Linked DNA regions of Homo sapiens. The main gene of each other region encodes a partner of the protein of the gene in region 2 in a complex. Each region holds a gene or a part of one and is shown on either strand. Other genes may lie near its edges.

Region 1 (3,911 bases), on a different chromosome or scaffold from region 2:
ACAGACCCTGGGAGGCCACCGCCCTTGCAGGAAATCCTCGCTTCTGGAGGCACTCCAGACCTAGGTGAGAGAAAGGCACACCCCGGGGACACTCTGGGGACCTCCCTTCAAGTGACCTAGTTCTCACACACACGCTGGCATCTGCCCTGCTCTCCAGGTGATGGTGGCCCCTACACAACGACCCCACATTTCTCTTCAAGACTTTAGACCCTCCTCCCAATTCCTGCCCCTTGACAGCCAGCTTTGCAGCCGAAACCCCCCTCCCAAACCCAACAGGCATTCTCCGCTGTGATGCGAGTAGCCTCCCTCCTGTTCCCCAGGCAAGAACCCCGTCTCCAGCCTCCTCCTGCGTGTTCTCAGCACACCAGTCAGCCAGGTGACCCGATGTTCTACTCAGAGCTGCCCCACGGCTGCCGCCCGATCAGGTCCTTGCAATAGGCTGCCTTGGTCCACAACATAATGCCCACACTGTGCTCTAAATGCTGCCTCTGGCAACCCAAAAGGAAGTAGAGACAGCATCCCAGCACTCGCACAAGACGGCAGAGAACCACTGCTCTGTCCCAACTATGATGCAATGGGGAGTAAAGGAAAGTGACTTCACAACCACGCTAGAGGACCAAGGGTGGCGGCCAGAGAACCACCCTTACCAGGCTGCTCATGCACTGACACCACCAACCTCAAGGGCAAGCCATGTCCATGAAGCAACTACTGTAGCTTTTCCTTCTGGAAACTGAATTCTTGCTGTGATTCTGAAGAGAACAATACACAGTCATCTTTGATTTATAAGGTGATTTTGTTCCTGGAACTTCAGAACACCTGTTAAAACTATGCACAAAAATTTTTTTTTCATATTTATAACAGGTCTGGGACATCAGACGACCTCCCCTACATGAAGGTCAGACAGGAAGTGTTCTTGCCACTGCCAAAGGTGCCAGTGCTGCCACCCAAAAATGCCACCACAGATTACCAAATTCCTTTTTCTGGGAACCGCGGACCCCCTCCGAGGGCCACTGCACACCCCAGCAGGCTTCCCACCCAGTATGCACCCTACTCCTGACAGGTCTCCAAACTCTGCCAGCCAGCGCACTCACCTCAGGGATTCTGCCCTGATTGTCCCGGGCCACTCCTTCACATCTCTGCTCACATGGCACCTGTCAAATGACACTCAGCCCCTTCCGGATGGTCCTGGTATCTCCCTGCCTTCCCTCCACCAGTGTGGGCAGCTCTGTGTGGCACTCACCGTCACAGCCACTGCCCCCGTGGAGCCTCATGCTCATCAAGCAGGGCTTCCTTTGCCCAGAACAGGCCTTCCTCCCCAGCCTCCCACCCTCTTCCGCTGGGCACTGCACAAGTGACTCACCACCAAGGAGAGGAGAAAACAATGGCAAAAGAATGTTTATCAGGCCCATAGGGCTCATGAAGATCAACTGTACACATCTGCAGATGTGCTTTCCCTAAAAATTAAGTTCGTCACGAAAAACCTATCGCATCAACAAGGAATTGCATGCTTTTTAAAAACTGTACTCATGTGTGGGTCAGTCTGAACATTCTTTTGACCATAAAAATGTGGGAAAATGGGGTTGTAGATGCTGTTAACTACTGAAGGCAAAAGTGTGGCAGCTCAGTGATGTCAGACACAAGAGGGAGGGAAGGATGTGTGTTCAAAATCTGTTTTCTAAACCTGCCCCCAGGTCCTCAGCTGATGAGTAGGTATAAATTTTTTTAAGAGCTAAGGGTCCTGCTCTGTTACTCAAGCTGGAGTGCAGTGGTTATGATCACAGCTCACTGCAACCTTGACCTCCTAGGTTCAAGTGATCCACTCTCCTGCCTCAGCCTCCCAAGTAGATTGCACTACACAGGTGTGAGCCACAGTGCCTGGCTAGTACAAATATTTTAAGGAAAATGTCACCACCAAAATTGCCAGAAGATGTATTCATAGTATTTTAAATATAAATCAATAAATTTGATTGGTGAGTGAGCAACTGCATTCCCATCTACAGAAGGTACAAAGCACAGGCACATCTAACTGCCTCCGTTCCCAATCCCCAGGATGAGTATAGATGATAGCTTCTTGGCCATTTGTACCTAAATCAAACCTATAAAATACTTAAAAGTTTCCCGCATAGCGTATATGGTACTGCAAAAATAACTTGCTGTATGACACAAATGGAAAGATGTCTCATGTCTAGCCATGCTACCACTGGAAGCCCTTTGGAAATGAATCTTTCTAGCTTGCTGGCATCCCTTCAGGGAGTAAAAACTATTTTAATACATTCTGCCTAGAAGGCTTTCAAAATATACTATTTTGAGGACATAGGAAAACCCAAACTCAGTTTCTCACACACTCTTATAACACAGGTCGCTTCTCACACCACATGAGCAGGGGTTTCTCCCTACATGCCAAGCAAGCAACCAGTTCTGCGTTCTGCAGCAGACACCAGCTAGGTGTCGTTTAATTCAGTTCAATTCTGACACTGTCTACCTGGAGGCAATCACAAACTCCAGGTTATTTTACCTGTGCTTCTGGACAGCCATCTATAAATCAGGGTTCCCATAACTCCTTCCCCTTGGGTTCAATTAATTTGCTAGAGTGGCTCACAGAACTCAGAAAAACACTAAAGGTTACTGGTTTTTCATAAAGGATGTTACAAAGGATACAGATGGAGAGATGCAGTGGGCGGTGTATGAGGGAAGAGACACGGCGCTACCTTTCCCTCCTGGCTGTGCCATTCTCCAGGAACCTCCATGAATTCAGCTTTCTGGAAGCTCTCTGAAAACCCAGGCAGGCCTTTCGGGTATTTCCCATCAACAAGGAATTTCATGCTGTTTCTTTTTTTTCTTTTTTTTTTTTTTGAGACAAAGTCTCGCTCTGTTGCCCAGGCTGGAGTGCAGTGGCGCGATCTCTGCTCCCTGCAAGCTCCACCTCCCGGGTTCACGCCATTCTCCTGCCCCAGCCTCCCGGGTAGCTGGGACTACAGGTGCACACCACCACACCTGGCCTATTTTTTTGTATTTTTAGTAGAGTCGGGGTATCACCATGTTCGCCAGGATGGTCTCAATCTCCTGACCTCATGATCCACCCGCCTCAGCCTCCCAAAGTGCTGGGATTACAGGCGTGAGGCACTACGCCCAGCCTCATGCTGTTTCAAAATTGTACTTAAGTGTGGTTCAGTCTGAACATTCCTTTGTACAAATGTGGAAACACGGGGCTGTAGATGCTGTTAACTACTGAAGGCAAAAGTGTGACTTCATGGTATAGGTGTGATTGATTAAATTATTGGCTATTGGTGACCAGCTCAATCTTCAGTCCCTCTCCACTCTGGGAAAATTGGAGGGTGGGGCTGAAACCCTCTAATCCTGCCTTGGCCCTGTGACTAGCCCTACCCTGAAGTTTCGTAGGGGCTGCCCATCACTGGTCAACTCATTAGGGTACAAAAAGACATCATCACTTCGGAGATTCCAAGTATTTTAGCCAGGAAATGGGAGGCAGGCCAGATATGTATTTTGCAATCCACAACTATAGACTTCTAACTTCCTGAAATGTTCATGGACTGAATCAACTCTCCTGTCCACTTCATGCTGTACACCAGCAGTGAGCCCTGGGCCTCAAGGGTGTGGGAGAATGTCTGCCTTCTAAACAGAATCATTTTCAATTGCTGTGCCTGTGAAAATCTGCCTGCCTTTTATGCTTTCCCTGTCTCTTCTCTTGTCATTTAGGCTTCTCCTGTTATCAGGGCCTGTAAGAAGCACCACCCTTCCCAGTCTGTTGGCTGACAACCGGCTGCAAGCCCTTGTTACCACTGTGTGAGAACCAGGAAACCAGGATTAGTCAAGGACTTTATGGCTTATCAGCCAGCCTCACTGTCTCCCCATCCCTGTAGGTGGCTGAGTGACAGGACCCTGGGGGAGGA
Region 2 (3,911 bases):
ACCCCATCTCTACTCAAAATACAAAAATTAGCCGGGTGTGGTGGCATGTGCCTGTAATCCCAGCTACTCAGGAGGCTGAAGCAGGAGAATCACTTGTACCCAGGAAGTCGGAGGTTGCAGTGAGCTAAGACTGCGTCACTGTACTCCAGCCTGGCGACAGAGCTAGACTCCGTCTCAAAAAAAAAAAAAAAAACAGCTGCCTGAGGCCGCGCGCAGTGGCTCATACAGGATTACATGCCTGTAATCCCAGCTATTTGGGAGGCTGAGGCGGGTGGATCACCTGAGGTCAGGAATTCAAGACCAGCCTGGCCAACATAGTGAAACCCTGTCTCTACTAAAAATATAAAAATTAGCTGGGCATGGTGGTGCGTGCCTGTAATCTCAGCTACCTGGGAGGCTGAGGCAGGAGGATTGCTTGAGCCCAGGAGGCAGAGGTTGCAGTAAGCCAAGATTGCACCACTACACTCCAGACTGGGCAACACAGTGAGACTCAATCTCAAAAACAACAAAAACAAGCTATGTGCAGTGGCTCACGCCTATAATCCTAGCACTTTGGGAGGTTGAGGTGGGAGGATCACCTGAGGTCAGGAGTCTGAGACTAGCCTGGCCAACATGGCGAAACCCCATCTCTACTAAAAATACAAAAATCAGCTGAGTGTGGTGGTGCATGCCTGTAATCAGTCCCAGCTACTCGGGAGGCTGAGGCATGAGAATCACTTGAACCCAAGAGGTGGAGGTTGCAGTGAGCTGAGATCACACCACTGCACTGCAACCTGGGCGACAGAGCACAACTCCATCTCAAAAAAAAAAAACAAAAAACAAAAAAAAACACCTTCCTAGTGGAAATGGATTGAGGGCCTGGAGCTTCACCTGGCAAGCCCCCATCCACTCCCAGTAGCCTCGAGGAGCTCTGCAGGAATCCCCTAGCTCTGAGAAGCACAGCTGACAAGCATTGAAGTGAGGTGCTGTTGCTGGTAGACAGGCGCTGCTGTGTTAGGAAGCTGAGAATGCTTTCTGTGGCTAAGCCCTTGGAGCTAGGTCTTTCTTGTTTTTCTAAATGGCAGGCACACTTGTTTTGTTCCAGTTTGCAGAGGAGTCAGCAGGGTGAGTGCTTGGAGTGGGTCTCGTTGCAGCTCCAGACCCTGCCCATTGGGTCATATTCCTTTCAGGATATTTGACCTCTGACCAGCCAGCATCATTAATGCACTGCCCCCTGGCCTGTGAGCAGCACCCCCAGCCTCTGCCCCTCCCACCCTCTCAACCAGGTGGTGGCCAATGCAGTGGCAGCGCTCTCAGAAATTGCCGAGTCTCACCCCAGCAGCAACCTGCTCGATCTGAACCCACAGTCCATCAACAAGCTGCTGACAGCCCTCAATGAGTGCACCGAGTGGGGCCAGATCTTCATCCTGGACTGCCTCGCCAACTATATGCCCAAGGACGACCGCGAGGCCCAGAGGTGAGCGGGCTGCCCGTTGCTTGCCAGCCCAGCTTGAGGACCCTGGTCCTCAGGGGCTCCAACCAGGCACTGGGCCTTGGGCCTTAGTGGGCCCCTTTCTAGTGCTTTGCCCCATAACCCACCCTCAGACACACCTAAAGGGAGGCCTGCCTGCTTCCCACCTCTCCAGAGCCAGGTAGACAGGAGAGTTGCCTTGGGCAGCTATGGGCATACGCATGGCCTGGCCTTGGAGCTGGCAGAAGCCCAGGGCACCTCTTTTGAGTTCAATAGGTGGGTAGCGCCAGAGCCACTGCTCATTGAATTCTCACTGGGTGTCTGGGGCTCTGCCGGGTGCTTTCCACACTTTAGAGTCTTTAATGCAACTTTTATCATCATCCCCCACTTTCCAGATGAGGGAGCTCCAGCTTAGAGAGGTGGAGGGAATAGTGCAGGTCCCCTGGCTGGGGCTCACCTGACTCATGGTCTTAACCAACAAGATACCCTCCAAGTCGGAGGAAGTGAGGAGTTGCCATCTATACAGTATGTACTACATGCCAGTACTGTGCTTGTTCTTTTTTTTTTTTTTTTTGGCAGGGTCTCTGTTCTGCAGGCTGGAGCTGCAGCCCCAACCTGCAGGGCTCAATCAATTCTCCCAGGTAGCTGGGACTACAGACATCTGCATGCCAACATGAGCAGCTAATTTTTATATTTTGTATAGAGACAGGTTTTCTCCATGTTGCCCAGACTGGTCTCAAACTCCTGGGATCAAGCAATCCACCCATCTCAGCCTCACCCAGCCTTGTTCTTTACATGCGTTGTGTCAGTTAAGCCCCTAGCAACCCTGTGAAGTAGGCATCATCATCTTGATTCTATAAATGAAGAAACTGAGGCTCAGAGTGATTTGAACCTGCTAGGGGTTATCAAGCAGCAGAACCAAGATTTAGATCTTTCTCCTACAAAAAACATGTTTGTTTGTTTGTTTGTTTATGACAGGGTCTCGCTCTGTTGCCCAGGCCAGAGTGCAGTGTCACAGTCTCAGCTCACTGCAGCCTCAAACTCCTGGGCTCAAAGCAGTCCTCCTGCGTCAGCCTCCCAAGTAGCTGGGACTACAGGCATGCACCACCATACTCAGCTAATGTGTAAAATTATTTTTAGTAGAGAAGGGTCTCATGATTTTGCCCAGGCTGAACATGCTATTTTTTTTTTTTTCGAGACAGGGTCTCACTCTGTTGCCCAGGCTGGAGTGCAATGGCGCGATCTCGGCTCACTGTAACCTCCACCTCCTGGGTTCAAGCGATTCTCATGTCTCAGCCTCCTGAGTACCTGGGACTACAGGTGCTTACCACCATGCCCAGCTAATTTTTATATTTTTTGGTAGAGACAAAGTTTTACCATGTTGGCCAGGCTTGTCTCAAACTCCTGACCTCAAGTGATCCACCCACCTCGGCCTCCCAAAGTGCTGGGATTACAGGCGTGAACTATCACGCCTGGCCTGGACATGCTATTTTGGTAACTAAAAACAGAATGTTTCCCCTTGTCTTTCCTGTTTGCCCCGTTGGAATGGACGGACCCCAGCATCTGTGAGCGGGTCACCCCCAGGCTCTCCCATGCCAACTCCGCTGTGGTGCTCTCTGCTGTGAAGGTGCTGATGAAGTTCATGGAGATGTTGTCTAAGGACTTGGACTACTACGGCACACTGCTCAAGAAGCTGGCCCCACCCCTGGTCACACTGCTGTCAGCCGAGCCAGAGCTGCAGTATGTGGCCCTGCGCAACATCAATCTCATCGTGCAGAAAAGGTACTGAGGTCACCACACGCACGTCCATGCGTACCCCTCGGGGAGCCTCTTCTGCTGGGAATGGGGGCTCTCAAAGGAAACTGACCTGTCACCATGCAGGAAGTCTCAAATAGCTTAACCCAGAATAGCTTAACCAAAGTGGCAGCTTTGCCCCCCTGAGGGATATTTGGTGGTGTCTGGAGATACTTTGGTTTTCACAGCTGAGGGGGGCATGCTACCGGCTTCTAGTGGGCAGAGGCTAGGAGTGCTGGTCAGCATCCTACAGTGCACAGAATAGCCCCTCACAGTAACTGTCCAGCCCGAAATGTCAGCAGTGCTGAGGTTGAGAAGCCCTGGCTTAACCTAACTAGGAAGCAGGCTATGTAAAGACTAGCTTGGTGATTAAACTAGATATTGTCTTCATAGTCCACGAGCTGTCCTGAAATGGGCTGTCAGATTTTGTGTATCTGTGTACATTTCTTCGGGGGACAGAGTCCGTAGCTCTAGTCAAACTCTCTGAGGTTGGAACCTTGAGGTCTGGGGGAGAGGTACATCGGACTCACTCCAAATGCTGTGCCGCCCACTTCCCTCCCATGAGAATGGCTGAGCAGTGAGCTGCTGCTCCCAGGGCACGTGGTATGGTAGTGGGGGGTAGGCGAGAGCAGAAAAACCATTGAGCAGTGCTGGATCGGAGGGGTTC

The links.
Region 1: the proteins of AP1B1 (region 2) and ARF1 are in contact, whole or in part, in a cryo-EM structure (PDB 7R4H), measured with the Homo sapiens proteins. Residues at the interface, in NP_001118.3 of Homo sapiens: Asn23, Asp25, Pro52, Asp53, Val55, Asn56, Met58, Gln59, Met83, Ile85, Met86, Ala87, Val88, Asn89, Thr90, Val92, Lys93, Tyr121; in NP_001019397.1 of Homo sapiens: Glu17, Met18, Tyr35, Ile46, Thr48, Ile49, Gly50, Phe51, Asn52, Val53, Glu54, Thr64, Trp66, Lys73, Leu77, Arg79, His80, Tyr81, Gln83, Asn84.

Annotation. Positions count from the first base shown.
Region 1 is NC_000001.11:228,085,458-228,089,368, reverse strand, and holds part of ARF1 (ADP-ribosylation factor 1), read right to left. Parts: intron 1-3,911. UniProt on the Homo sapiens protein: Small GTPase involved in protein trafficking between different compartments. Modulates vesicle budding and uncoating within the Golgi complex. In its GTP-bound form, triggers the recruitment of coatomer proteins to the Golgi membrane.
Region 2 is NC_000022.11:29,353,971-29,357,881, reverse strand, and holds part of AP1B1 (AP-1 complex subunit beta-1), read left to right. Parts: intron 1-1,265; coding exon 1,266-1,456; intron 1,457-3,010; coding exon 3,011-3,232; intron 3,233-3,911. UniProt on the Homo sapiens protein: Subunit of clathrin-associated adaptor protein complex 1 that plays a role in protein sorting in the late-Golgi/trans-Golgi network (TGN) and/or endosomes.